Homo sapiens: one gene and its partners. The protein of the gene in region 1 interacts with the protein of each later gene in a pairwise test. Each region holds a gene or a part of one and is shown on either strand. Other genes may lie near its edges.

Region 1 (3,500 bases):
CTCAGATAACTCTAATCAAATTGTAATGTAGAAAACTGGCTTGTCAAGACAGTTTAGAGATCTGTTCTTTAGCATCTGTTGAGTATAATTTAAAAAAAAAATCCAAGTTGGAAATGACCTGTAAACCCATCTAATTAGGCACAATAAGATATTAGGTTATTTTTAATTATCCAAACTTTATTAAAGTCCTTTAATTAAGCCTGTTTTATTGCTGCTAAAATGTGGACACTAGCTAGGTTAACAGGCAATGAAAAATGTTCATTTCCTGCTTTTGCATTTTCTTAGAGTAGCTTTAAATATATGCCACAGTGTTCTTGATAACATCTATTCCCTCCTGTCTCATCATCAGAGACCAAAACTGTTAGAATATTTGTATTTCGGTTGGTAAAAAGTAATGCGGTTTTTGCCAATAAAAGTAATGGGAAAAACTGCAATTACTTTTGCACCAGCATAATATCTTGATGTTTTCCATCATCTTCACCTGTTCATATTGCAGCCTAACGTCTCTGAATAGCACGTTTTTATTAATCCCTAACCCCCTCACAATTCATGTATCGCAAGTATAGTGTCTTAGTAATTTGTGTAGACTCACTATGGAGTTGGATGACATAAGGGGCATCCAGTAGGATTTGCCTCCCTCCGTGTACACTCATCCAGGACTGCACTGTGGAAGATGGAGTACAAGACAGGGTCTTTACCTGCACGGTTGTGGTCCAGTAGGGAAGCCGAGTATGGGTACTTGAAAGATAATTCCACCCTCTTCATTTGTCTGTTTCAAAAACCTTGGGTGAGAGTCTGTTAAGGACCAGGCAGGAGATATGTAAGCATGTGTGTGCTGTCATCGACGTGAGCATGTGTGTGCTGTCATCGACGTGCGTGTGAACAGAGGTAAGCCTTTCTTAACCTGGTTACCGGTGTTAGTCACTTTGCAGAGTTCCTTCACTTTCTATTTTCCCTTCCTCCCTCCAATTCCTCCTTGGAAGAATCGGCTACACTTGCCCCTTCTTCCTTGCTCCCACTTGGGTGGCTTACCCCTGCCAAGTCACAGCTGGCAGTGGGAGGCATTGCCCACCCCAGTGGCTATGCTAGAAAAGAGGTTCATTATTGACTCCTGTCACCTTCTCAGTCCCTAGGTCTAGGCAGCTTCTGCCATCACTGGCATCCCCACCTGCCATCTCTTGGCCTCATCTCAGCAGCACTTTGCATTGTAGGCCCTCCTTGTTCTCCCAACAGACCCTTCCTTGGCATCTGTGATTCTGCTGGCTTCTGGGTTTTCCCTTCCCGCGATCACTGTGGCTCCTGCTGCTGACACTGCCTCCTTTCTGCGCTTCCCTGCCTAGGGATGTCTGTGTTCCTTGGGCTCAGCCTGGGCCCTCTTCTCCTTCTGCACTCTCAAAGGAGGTGTCATCCCTCCCAGTGGCCTGACTTCCATCCAGGTCTCCAGCCCAGATCTCACATTTTCATTTCTGACTTTCCACCCCACTGTGACTCAGAGATGGAAGACTCGTGCCCCTGCCCCAGACTCCTCTTCCCCAGGGTCTCCAGTGCAGGGAGAGGAAGCGTTGTCTGCCCTCTTGTCCACAAAAGAAAAGGAAGTTGTGTTATTGACAGCTCCTCCTCCCTCAATCCCTAAATGTAGTTCATTAGCAAATCCTCTGCATTCTGCTCCCAAATGGCCCTCACTCTTGCCTTTTCTATTCTCTGCCCATAGCCAAGACCATGGGTCAAGCCACCATCACCTCTTGCCTGGATTGCTGTTGCTGCCTCAGCCTCCTCATCAGCCTCTCCGTCTCAACCTTCAACCCTTTCCAATTCATTCTCCCGCTATAGACCCAGTGTTCTTTCTAAAACACAAATTTGATATCTGTGTGTGCCCTTCTGCTTAAAATCATCCAATGGCTCCTCGTGGCTTGTAGGATAAAAAGTCTAAACTCCTCAACTTGGTTCCCAAGGCCCTGTGGTGCAGGTGGACATACATTACTGGCTTCATCTCCTGCTGTTCTTTCTCCTGCTGCAGCCTAGCTGACCTTTAGTTCTGTGTTCTTTTTGCCTCCTCTGTGTGGAACAGTCTCCAGCTGTTCCCCTGGAGAACTCCTGCTCCTTCGGGTCCTGCCTTGGTGTTCCTGAGTCTGACATAGGTCAGTGCGGATCTGCTGCCATGACTTATGGTATTTCTGCAGACCTTGTCCTCCTTAAGTGCCGCTTAGCTTGTCTCTATTCCCCATGAGATTACAGGCGATGAGGGCTGGGACCAAGTCTCATGTTGTTTCCATTCTGTCTCCTTCACAGCTCTTGGTGCCTGGCACCTAGTAGGTGCTCAGTAAATATTTGGTGAATGGACAAAAGAACTTTTCACAGTCTGTGTTCAGTCACTGAATAAACGTTCTCATTCCAGTTCTGCTCCCTAGCTCTTCCCTCTGTTTTTCTTTTTTGTAAGAGTCCTAGCTTTTGAGCTAGCCACTCAACCTGTTTTAAGATCTTTTCTTAAAATAGCACCTTAAAAAAAGAAAACCTAACTTGTCCATCAGTCTTAAGAATAGCACTCTGTAAAGTATCACGAATGGAATTTTTATAGTCAATGCTCCTAAAGTATAGGTGCGATAAACATGGTAGATGAACAAACATGGAAACATGAGATTTTACCCTTTAGAGGACCAGATGTTCTTTGCCTTTTTTAAAATTTACATTTTAAGGCTGGTTGTGATGGCTCATACCTGTATCCCAGCACTTTGGGGGGCCGAGGAAGGCAGATCACCTGAGGTCAGGAGTTCGAGACCAGCCTGACCAACATGGTGAAACCCCGTCTCTACTAAAATTAGAAAAATTAGCCGGTCATGGTGGCGGGCACCTATAATCCCAGCTACTCGGGAGTCTGAGGCAGGAGAATCACTCGAACCTGGGAGGTGAGGTTGCAGTGAGCCAAGATTGCGCCATTGCACTCCAGCCTGGGCAACAAGAGCGAAACTCTATTAAAAAAAATCAGTTATTAATATTAGTAATGTTATACAGCAGATAAAGGGAAATTTATTTGGAAACTGATTATAAAGTAGTTTAGGTCTAGGAGCAGTGGCTCACGCCTGTAATCTCAGCACTTTGGGAGGTCGAGGTGGAAGGATCGCTTGAGCCCAGGAGGCAGAGACTGCCAGATCACACCACTGCACTCCAGGTTGGGCGACAGAGCCAGACCCTGTCTCAAAAAAAAAAGTAGTTTAAAAAAAAGATTTTTTTTTTTGAGACGACATGTTGCTCTGTTACCCAGGCTGGAGTGCAGTGACACAATCTCAGTTCAGTGCACCCTCCACCTCCTGGGTTCAAGTGATTCTTCTGTTAGCCTCCCGAGTGGCTGGGATTACAGGTATGCAGTCCACCACTCTTGACTAATTTTTGTATTTTTAATAGAGACATGGTTTCGCCATGTTGGCCAGGCTGGTCTTGAACTCCTGACCTCAGGTGATCTGCCTGCCTGGACCTCCCAAAGTGCTGGGATTATAGGTGTCAGC
Region 2 (3,047 bases), on another chromosome or scaffold:
TGTTATTTTTCTAGTTGCCAGAGATGGTTGCACTGAAATAGAACAGGGAGTTGCATACAAAGCCTAAATGTGTATTGGATTTCGAAAATACTAGGTTGGTGCAATTGGTTTTGTACCAACCTAACATGTCTTTAGGAAAGTACCATCATGTGGAAGGAAACAACAGGTGTTAAAAGGTTCAAAGGAATGAGAAATAGGAAGTTACTAGAACCTAACTGATGTTGACCTTAGAGGTAAGATTATTCAGGTATATTAGTGGACCTCCAGTCCAATGGTATAGCAAATTCCAGGGATCTCAGGTGCATGCAATTTTACTTTCTAAAGTAAACACTTAGAAAATAGATTATAACCCAGACGTTTTGGATTATACTGAGACAAATATGTAAATAAGTTTTAGCAAGTCTGAACATGTACCAGCGAGATCTTCAGGTTAACTAAGAAAAGCCCAGAAACTTCATTATTTACTGTGCTTTGTATGGCATAACTGGTAACAAGGCAGTAAAATGATACATATTTGAACTGGACCATAGTAATTAAATGATTTATCAATATCATTTGCAAGATAATTGTCAGGTTGAGTTAATAGTAAGTGGCAGCTTCCCAGAAATTTGGGTTATTTGGCCTAAGCTGTGCCCTGGGATTACCTCTTCATCTTCCTTGACTTTTAAGTTCAAATTTGGAGGTTATGTGAAGTGATTGAAATAAATCTTTCAGGCTGAGGAAGTCGGTAATTTCAAGAATATAGTGAAAACAAGGTTGTAATCTAAACATGAGAAGCTTAAGTTTAGGAAATGGTTAGAATATAAATTGCTAAAGCCATCATGATTTTGGCCACAGATGAAAATATGAACACTGGAAATGAGCGCCATTTAAATGAGATGCTGTATGTAAGCCAGGGGTCAGCAAAGTTCAGCCTGTGACCTGGTGTGTGTGGGGGTGTGTGTGTGTGTGTGTGTGTGTGTGTGTGTGTCCGTGTCCCTGAGTTAAGAATGGTTTTTAGGCTTGTATAGGATTAAAAAAAAAAAAAACCCACAGAAAAATGTAGGCAGCCCAGCATAAGATACCGCCTTTCACAGAAATGTTTGCTGACCCCGGAACTGTCACTCTCGGGTTACAAGAGTTTGTTTCTTTGAAACAGTCTGGCTCTGTCACCCAGGCTGGAGTGCAGTGGCATGATCTCAGGTCACTGCAGCCTCCACCTCCCGGGTTCAAGCAATTCTGCCTCAGCCTCCTGAGTAGCTGGGATTACAGGTGTGCACCACCACAGACAGCTAATTTTACAGGTGTACACCACCACACCCAAGAATCACTTGAACCCGGGAGGTGGGGGTTGCAGTGAGCCAAGATCATAGCACTGTACTCCAGTCTGGGTGACACACTGTCTGAAAAATAAAAGTTTAGTTCTAGGTACAAATTAAGTGGTCTACCCAACAGGAAGCTGTGAAATTAGAAGTAATTTTAAAGCATACTTTACACCTCTATATAATCAAAGTAAGGGCAAGATAAAACTTGTTAGTAAAACATGTTTTATTATTTTTTAGATAGGTAGCCTGCAACATAAAATATATTTTGAAAGCTGTTAAGGGGTGTATAATCTGTTAAAAAATACCATGATTAGTATTTCACATTTAGTGACTCAGATCCCTTTGTGTAAGTCCTTTGCGTTGTGCAAAGAGGTTTTTCTATGAGATGAGAATTATGAACACTTCATATAGGTAAATTCCATAGGTTGAGCTGGGGCAGAAATTAATGGCTCCTGGAGATTGCATCTTTTTTTTTTTTTTTTTGAGCTTAGAATTCCCATTTGGACAGAATTTAGCTTTTGTGCTGTTGATTACTTCTGTACTAAACTGGTAGCCAATTGTTCACTTCTAAATGGAAGGGAAAAAGTTACCCACACAAGTTAGAAAATGATTTACCGAATTATTTTTTTGAGTTAGTATGTATATACTGTTTTAAATCAGTAATGTTTGTTCCTTTTGCTGCCCATTTGGGAGTATGTGGCAATTCCTAGTGCTCTTGTATGACATTACTCTTCTTGAGACTTGTATATGCAAGAAAGTATATATAAAAGATGCCTGGTGGTAACTTTGTATCTGAGTTCTGATTCATTATGGACTTTTAGAAATCTATTTAGATAATTGGTTCATACTAGGTGCTCAATTACTCTGACCTTGTGTGGCTTAATCCTTAAATAGTTGCTTTAGGTGTTACTGGGTGGAAGCATGGAAAGTGAAGGGCTAATATTAAGGATTTTTATGTATTACTGAGTAGGGAAAGTGGGAAGTAGCTTATCTTTGGACAGTTGTATTACTTTGCACTAATCACCTTGTTTGCAGTTGTAGCTGATTCAGTTCTAGATTTTAGGACCAAAAAGATCTCTAATTTAAAGAAACAGTTTTTATATACCTAGAATGAAGATTCTGTTTAAAGCGGTTTTGGTTAACTTGGTTCTTGACATTTGCCTAAAATTTTGTTGGATTGGGACTAAAATGTTCTATTAGCCAATGAATAACGTCCAAGTAAATTTTTGTTTTATTTTGGGAACTTTGTATATTGAATTCTTTGTTTTACACGTAACCCACAAAGAAATGTTGCTTCATATGGCAGCTGCACTCAGAGTACTAAGATAAGCATGTGTTTAGACATTTTCTAGACATTTTCAGAGTGCTCCGACAGCTGGGGTTCTTTTGGAAAGAAATGGACTGAAAGTGGGTGGGTTTTGTATTTTTCCCATTACATGACGACATGTTTAGGCCTTCATGATTGGTGTGAACTAAACACATATCTTTGTTTAGAGATAAGACAATTGGTTTGTGTACTTACCCTGAAAATTCATAATTTCGTGTTTTTTGTTTGTTTGTTTTTGAGATGAGTCTCACTCTGTTGCCCAGGCTGGAGTGCAGTGGCGCGATCTCGGTTTACTGCAACCTCTGCCTCCCGGGTTCAAGTAATTCTCCTGACTCAACCTCCTGAGTAGCTAGAATTATAGGCGCCCGCCACCACGCCCGGCTAATTTTTTGTATTTTTAGTAGAGACGGGGATTC
Region 3 (3,500 bases), on another chromosome or scaffold:
TTTTTTTTAAATTAATAGTAATGTTATGTTTGAAAAACTGGTTTGAAATAAACTTTAAAACCTTTAGAAGTTTAACCACTTAAGACTTTTCCAGTCTGCCTCGTTATAGCAAAACCAAGGAAAATTTCTTTTCTAAGCTCCTATAGAGAACTGGCAATGAAACTAAAATTTAATTGTGTCTCCAGGTCTCTTATTTTTCTGCAAATAATAAATTATGTACTATGATCATTTTCAGATAAATCATCATGCATGTTCCAAAATGATTGGCCAAGTTTTATTTTTAAGAAACATTAATCGTGAGTGGAAAGAAACATGCTATGGCCTTTTGGGAGACAGTAGTGTCTTATTACAGTGGAAAAGTGGTAGCGTGGGCATCAGAAAAACATGGGGAAGGTTCAGCTCACCCATGTAGCTTTGTAACTTTAGATCTTAGTTATACATAAAATAAGGGGATTAAGTTAGAGGATCTTAGTTTCCTTCCAGAATTAAAATTTAGTGATTCAGAGATGTCTAGGATTTTAAACTTTCACTACAAGATGAATTTGACAGATCTTCCTGTAGGGAACTGTAGTATGTAGCACTTCTACTTTGGTATTTGGTAGGATGAGACTTGATCATGCAGTTAATTTGAGCTGAGTCTCTGAATGCACATGTGAAGGCCTTGGTCTTTTTAAAGTGTGGGGGCAGTATGTATTGTGTGATGGCATGTGGATTGTTATACCTAGTTTGGTTTCTTTAAAATTGAAACATACAGTTGCCATTTCTACCCTAGGTACATGAAGTGTAATACTCCTCTAAGCCTATTGGGATACTGCAAGATGAAAAGTGATTGCTTCACAGTTTAGACATTGGGAGGAAAATCAAGAGCTGTCTTTTAGAGGATGTAGCAGGCAGTATAACTGTAAAAGGGACACTGCATCTCTGTGTAAAATAATTTGAAATTATAGAAAATATTAGTACTTAGTAATAATTATATTTAGCTACCTAATTGAAATGCGTTTCTGGTGCACTTTTTGTGTCATTATCTCCATTACTTACTTAAACTTAACATTATGTAATCTGGATTTAGAAGTTGATGTATATACATGGTCTGTATTCTTTTAGATAAACATAAGGGATTCCTCTTTTGTCTGGCATAATGGCTTTTCAATATTTCAACTTTAAAAATCATTGTTTCTGTTGTATTGAAAATATTTTGGGGAGGAACTACATTTTGGGTGTTTATAGTAAAAAAAATAGTAATTACATCTGCAACATTTGGGTGATGTGAAACTAGATCTTTTTTTTATTTGCCACACACTCCTAAGGTTACTAATGTTGCATCACAACATTTTTGTCTACTGATACCCATACTAACTCTCTTTGTTGCACTATTTTCCTGAAAGAACCAACTTCTTCTTAAAACAGGGAAGAAGACATGAATCCAAAGATAAATCCTCTAAGAAACATAAGTCTGAGGAACATAATGACAAAGAACATTCTTCTGATAAAGGAAGAGAGCGACTAAATTCATCTGAAAATGGTGAGGACAGGCACAAACGCAAAGAAAGAAAGTCATCAAGAGGCAGAAGTCACTCAAGATCTAGGTCTCGTGAAAGGTAAGTCATGTTGTATTATAATGTAGTACCTTCTAACAAGTTACATAAAGTTTCTCATTGACCCAGCAACACCCAAAAAAATCATAATTAGGGAGTTTTTCTTGTTCGTTTGTTTGGGTTTGTGGTTTTGTTTGTTTTTTGCCTTTGGGCTTTGCTTTCTCATCATGCAAAAATGGTTTCCAAGAATGGGGTGTAAGGGATGACTAAATCTCAAGTGCCTAGATTTCTTTTCCCTTTTTTTTTTTTGACACGGAGTCTTGCTGTGTTGCCCAGGCTGGAGTGCAGTGGCATGATCTCGGCTCACTGCAACCTCTGCCTCCTGGGTTCAAGTGATTCTCCTTTCTCAGCCTCCCAAGTAGCTGGGATTACAGGCATGTGCTACCATGCCTGGCTAGTTTTTGTATTTTTAGTAGAGATGAGGTTTCGCCATGTTGGCCAGGCTGGTCTCGAACTCCTGACCTCAGGTGATCCACCTACCTCGGCCTCCCAAAGTGCTGGGATTACAGGTGTGAGCCACCGTGCCCAGCCTAGATTTTCTTTTTTGAGATGGTCTCTCTGTTGCCCTAACTAGAGTGCAGTGGTGTGCTCTCAGCACACTGCAGCCTCTTGTCCTCCAGGGCTCAAGTGATCTGACCTCAAGCCTCCCAAGCAGCTGAGACCACAGACATGCGCCACCACACCCAGCTAATCTCTTAGTATTTTTTTGTAGAGACGGGTTTTGGCCATGTTGTGCAGGCTATTCACGAATCCCTGGGCTCAAGCAGTGTGACGGCCTTGGCCTCCTGAAGTGCTGGGATTTCAGGAGTGAGTCACTCTGCCCAGCTGAGATTTTTAACCACTTAATCTGTCTGGCACTGAAAAAATCATATTGTTAAACTGTGTGGTTTAAGCTGATAAACAGTCCTTTTGCATCATCGATGGTGATGTTGGTGTTTGCTGCTAAACTGCAATCTAGATTTTTTTTAATGTTGGAGTATAGATAAAAAGATTTTTGAGAAACTGGATCACAGCTCAAATTTGTGAATGGTTTTTGGTGGGGTTTTTTTTGGAGAATTCTGTGGGTTGTGTGTGGTATCAGACTCAAAAATTTTTAGTAGATAAACTAAAGTATTAAGATTTGTAACTACTGTGGGAAGAGTATTAAACGGAAGCTTAAATTTGGGTAGGATGCATTGAACGCTTTTGACATGTTAATAGGTTTACTATGTTCTAGGACAAATTATCAAACAAAATGAAGGGTTCGTTTTCAGTTAGTATTTCCTTTGAAAATCTCGCTTATTTCTGTAAATAATATAGTGCAGTTACTTGCTTGTCTTTATTGCGTTACTACAAGTAACTAATTCATGATGTGTATAAATGAAACAACACAACTTTTAAGTAATTACAAATTTGTGCACTTTAATTTCAGACGCCATCGTAGTAGAAGCAGGGAGCGGAAGAAGTCTCGATCCAGGAGTAGGGAGCGGAAGAAATCGAGATCCAGAAGCAGAGAGAGGAAGAAATCGAGATCCAGAAGCAGGGAAAGAAAACGGCGGATCAGGTCTCGTTCCCGCTCAAGATCAAGACACAGGCATAGGACTAGAAGCAGGAGTAGGACAAGGAGTAGGAGTCGGTAGGTGACCATCATCCTGAATAAAATTTAATAGGACCCTCAGAGAGTCTGTTTATCTTCCTCAGTAAGAGAGTATTAAAATTGTGAGTCACAATTCTATTTATAGATTATGGTAAAATTATTTTAGTCATTACCTAACGTATGAAGAACACACCTAACCACTTGAATAGCATTCACAGGTATTCTCGTGATTGATAAATCTCTTGCGAAGTGCAGGTATGAATAGGCCTATTAAAATGCAGTTGTTGGCTAGGTGTCGTGGTTTACACCTGTAATCACAACGAGGCGAG
Region 4 (2,633 bases), on another chromosome or scaffold:
GCCCCTGCAACTTGGCCTGAGCGTCCTGGGCAGCTGGGGGGCCCCCCAGCATCAGTGTGGGGGCAAACAAGGCCACATCCGCCACCAGCTTCACCCCAGCTTCTACGGAAAAGAGGCGCAGGGTAGAGGCTCACCACGTGGCTCCGACCCTGTTCCCTTTTCACTTAACGCCAGCGGCCTCCTCTGGAATCCAAGCCCCTTAGGGAGGCGTTAGGTGTGGAGGGCCTGCAGGGCCTGCAGGAGCTGTCAAGGGAGGACTCTGCTGCCTCCTCCAGGCCCGGGAGGACCTTTCTAGGGAGGCACACACCTGGAATCCAGGTACTATATTTCGTGGAATATACGGTACCCGGGATTTCGTGTGCTGCTGAGAAGGAAGGCGATGCTGATGTTAATGAAACTGGAATGCGGCCCGGCTGGCAGGAAACGGGGTGCCTGCCCAGGCCTCGGGAACCATCGCTACCCCAGCCCCGCCCACCGGCCCCAGGCAGAGGCTCACGCGCTCCCGGCTTCGCTGCATTTATTGCAGGTGGGTGCACCTGGCGGGAGGGCAGGTCCGGGGCGAGGTCACACGACCTCGTCGGTCACCGGGATGGGGTTGACCTGGGGACCTCCCGGGGGTCCCCCCGCCGCCACCGCAGCCTCCTCCTCGCTGGGCTTCTTGCGGGCCTCGGCCGGGGGCCGCGGCGGGGGGTTGCTGGGCGGCTGCTTGATGGTGCCTCCGATCTGCGGCCGCTCCCGGGGCTTGGGCTCGATGGGCGTCCACTGCTCGCCACGCACAGCCGCCTGCGGGGCACTGAAGGGTTGAGCCGCGCCCCAGCGCCCGCCCTCCCTCCCTCCCTCCCTCCCCGGAGGCCCACCCCGCTAGGGGCCCTGGGACAGGCTCAAGTCTGAATCCCACGCAGGATGGTGTGACTGCCACTCAGAGAGGTTAAGTGACGCGCCCGAGGCCACACAGCCAGGACCTGGGTCGGCCTGACACCAGCCCAAGCTATTTCTTCATGCCAGGAGTGGGGCCCGAACCCCTGGGCTTCTGGAAGATCCCGTGGTGGACACTCCCAGATGCAAATTCTAGTACTCAAATTCTCCTCTCAAGGTGCCAAGGGCAGGGAAGGCAGGGAGGCAGGCCCGAGGTCCAGCAGGAGGGGTGGCCCAGGAGAGTAGCAGGCCCTGCTCCGTCTGGTGGGCGCCATTCACCCACGCTGGCCGGCAGCCCCCCAAGGGTGCCCAGGCATTTCTGCACATGGGGGTGGTGGGGGGAGAGCTTGAAGACCACGGGATTCCACTGGCTTTTACTAAAAATACAGACTCCTGGGCCCATGCCCGGAGGTTCCACTGCAACAGGTCAAGTGGACCTGGGAGTGTGTGCTTTTCATCTTCTATCCCATAATATCTGGTGGAAAAATATGTCACATCATATACGTCATGAACAGAAAGAGAAACTGGACATGTGTGATCCTACCTGACTCCAAAACGGAAACATTCCATTCTGAAAAGCAAAACTAGAAGGCTGATAGAAGAAAAGGCAGGAACGTGAAGGCAGGACCCAGGGCCAGGGAAAGGTGTTTTCACAAAGCACAGACCATAGAGCAGGTGAACAGGGAAACCTCTGCTCTTCCGTGCAGTGAAGGACTCCACGCGCCAAGTTAACAGACCCTCACCAGAAAGCATGAAGGCATCCCCAGTGTTTAAAGGTTACAAAGGCTAAATAGCTAAAATATATGTGGACTTCCTGCAACTTAAGAAAAAGACAATCAGGCCGGGCGCGGTGGCTCACGCCTGTAATCCCAGCACTTTGGGAGGCCGAGGCGGGCGGATCACAAGGTCAAGGAGATCCAGACCATCCTGGCTAACGCGGTGAAACCCCGTCTCTACTAAAAATACCAAAAATTAGCCAGGCATGGTGGCACGTGCCTGTAGTCCCAGCTACTCGGGAGGCTGAGGCAGGAGAATTGCTTGAACCCAGGAGGCGAAGGTTGCAGTGAGCCGAGATCACGCCACTGCACTCCAGCCTGGGCGATGGCGCGAGACTCCATCTCAAAAAAAAAAGAAGAAAAAGAAAAATACAAAAACCACAATAGAAAAATGGGCAAAGGATTTGAACAGGCAACTCAAGGGAGAAGAAACTCCAACAGCTCAAATCCACAGTCAGAGAAGGGCGAGTCCAAGCTCCACACGGCCAGCTCGTGCTGTGAAACTGGCAAGCGTGGGAGAAAGCCTAGTGCATGGTGGGAGAGATGGGGCCACATGGCTGGTGGTGGGTTGTCTGCTGAGGAGCAGCTGAGCCCGGCAGGGTGAACGGTGCAGAGGCTGATGCCTGACCCAGCAATTCCTCTCTGGGTTTAGCACAAGGAATTCCTCCCGAGGTCTCCAGGAGCCACTAGCTGTGCGTGGCAGCAGGGAGACGGGGGGGATGCGGGTGGCCCCCGGAAAACAAAGCAACAGCCCAGATGAGCACTTGGCAACAGGAAGGGGTTCTAAAGGAGAGTTCTGCCGGTGGCAGGTCAGTGAGGCTTGAAACAGAACTCCACTTCCATACGCGGAAGGCGTACACAGAAAGTGCTGCACCTTTCCCACGCACACACACTAGAAGACGCACAGCAAGGGGAGGGCAGTTGCCTCTGCGGGCAGGAGGG

Evidence for each region. Proteins that work in one complex are often made in the same cells at the same time.
Region 2: the proteins of UPF2 (region 1) and SERBP1 interact in a two-hybrid assay, tested with the Homo sapiens proteins (one large-scale study listed by BioGRID).
Region 3: the proteins of UPF2 (region 1) and RSRC2 interact in a two-hybrid assay, tested with the Homo sapiens proteins (one large-scale study listed by BioGRID).
Region 4: the proteins of UPF2 (region 1) and CYBA interact in a two-hybrid assay, tested with the Homo sapiens proteins (one large-scale study listed by BioGRID).

What each region holds. Positions count from the first base shown.
Region 1 is NC_000010.11:11,924,310-11,927,809, reverse strand, and holds part of UPF2 (regulator of nonsense transcripts 2), read left to right. Parts: intron 1-3,500. UniProt on the Homo sapiens protein: Involved in nonsense-mediated decay (NMD) of mRNAs containing premature stop codons by associating with the nuclear exon junction complex (EJC).
Region 2 is NC_000001.11:67,407,310-67,410,356, reverse strand, and holds the end of SERBP1 (SERPINE1 mRNA-binding protein 1), read left to right. Parts: 3' UTR 1-2,547; downstream 2,548-3,047. UniProt on the Homo sapiens protein: Ribosome-binding protein that promotes ribosome hibernation, a process during which ribosomes are stabilized in an inactive state and preserved from proteasomal degradation.
Region 3 is NC_000012.12:122,516,937-122,520,436, reverse strand, and holds part of RSRC2 (arginine/serine-rich coiled-coil protein 2), read left to right. Parts: intron 1-1,385; coding exon of another isoform or gene 1,386-1,407; coding exon 1,408-1,598; intron 1,599-3,006; coding exon 3,007-3,210; intron 3,211-3,500.
Region 4 is NC_000016.10:88,642,789-88,645,421, forward strand, and holds the end of CYBA (cytochrome b-245 light chain), read right to left. Parts: coding exon of another isoform or gene 2,378-2,633; exon of another isoform or gene 784-2,377; coding exon 565-783; 3' UTR 501-564; downstream 1-500. UniProt on the Homo sapiens protein: Subunit of NADPH oxidase complexes that is required for the NADPH oxidase activity that generates, in various cell types, superoxide from molecular oxygen utilizing NADPH as an electron donor.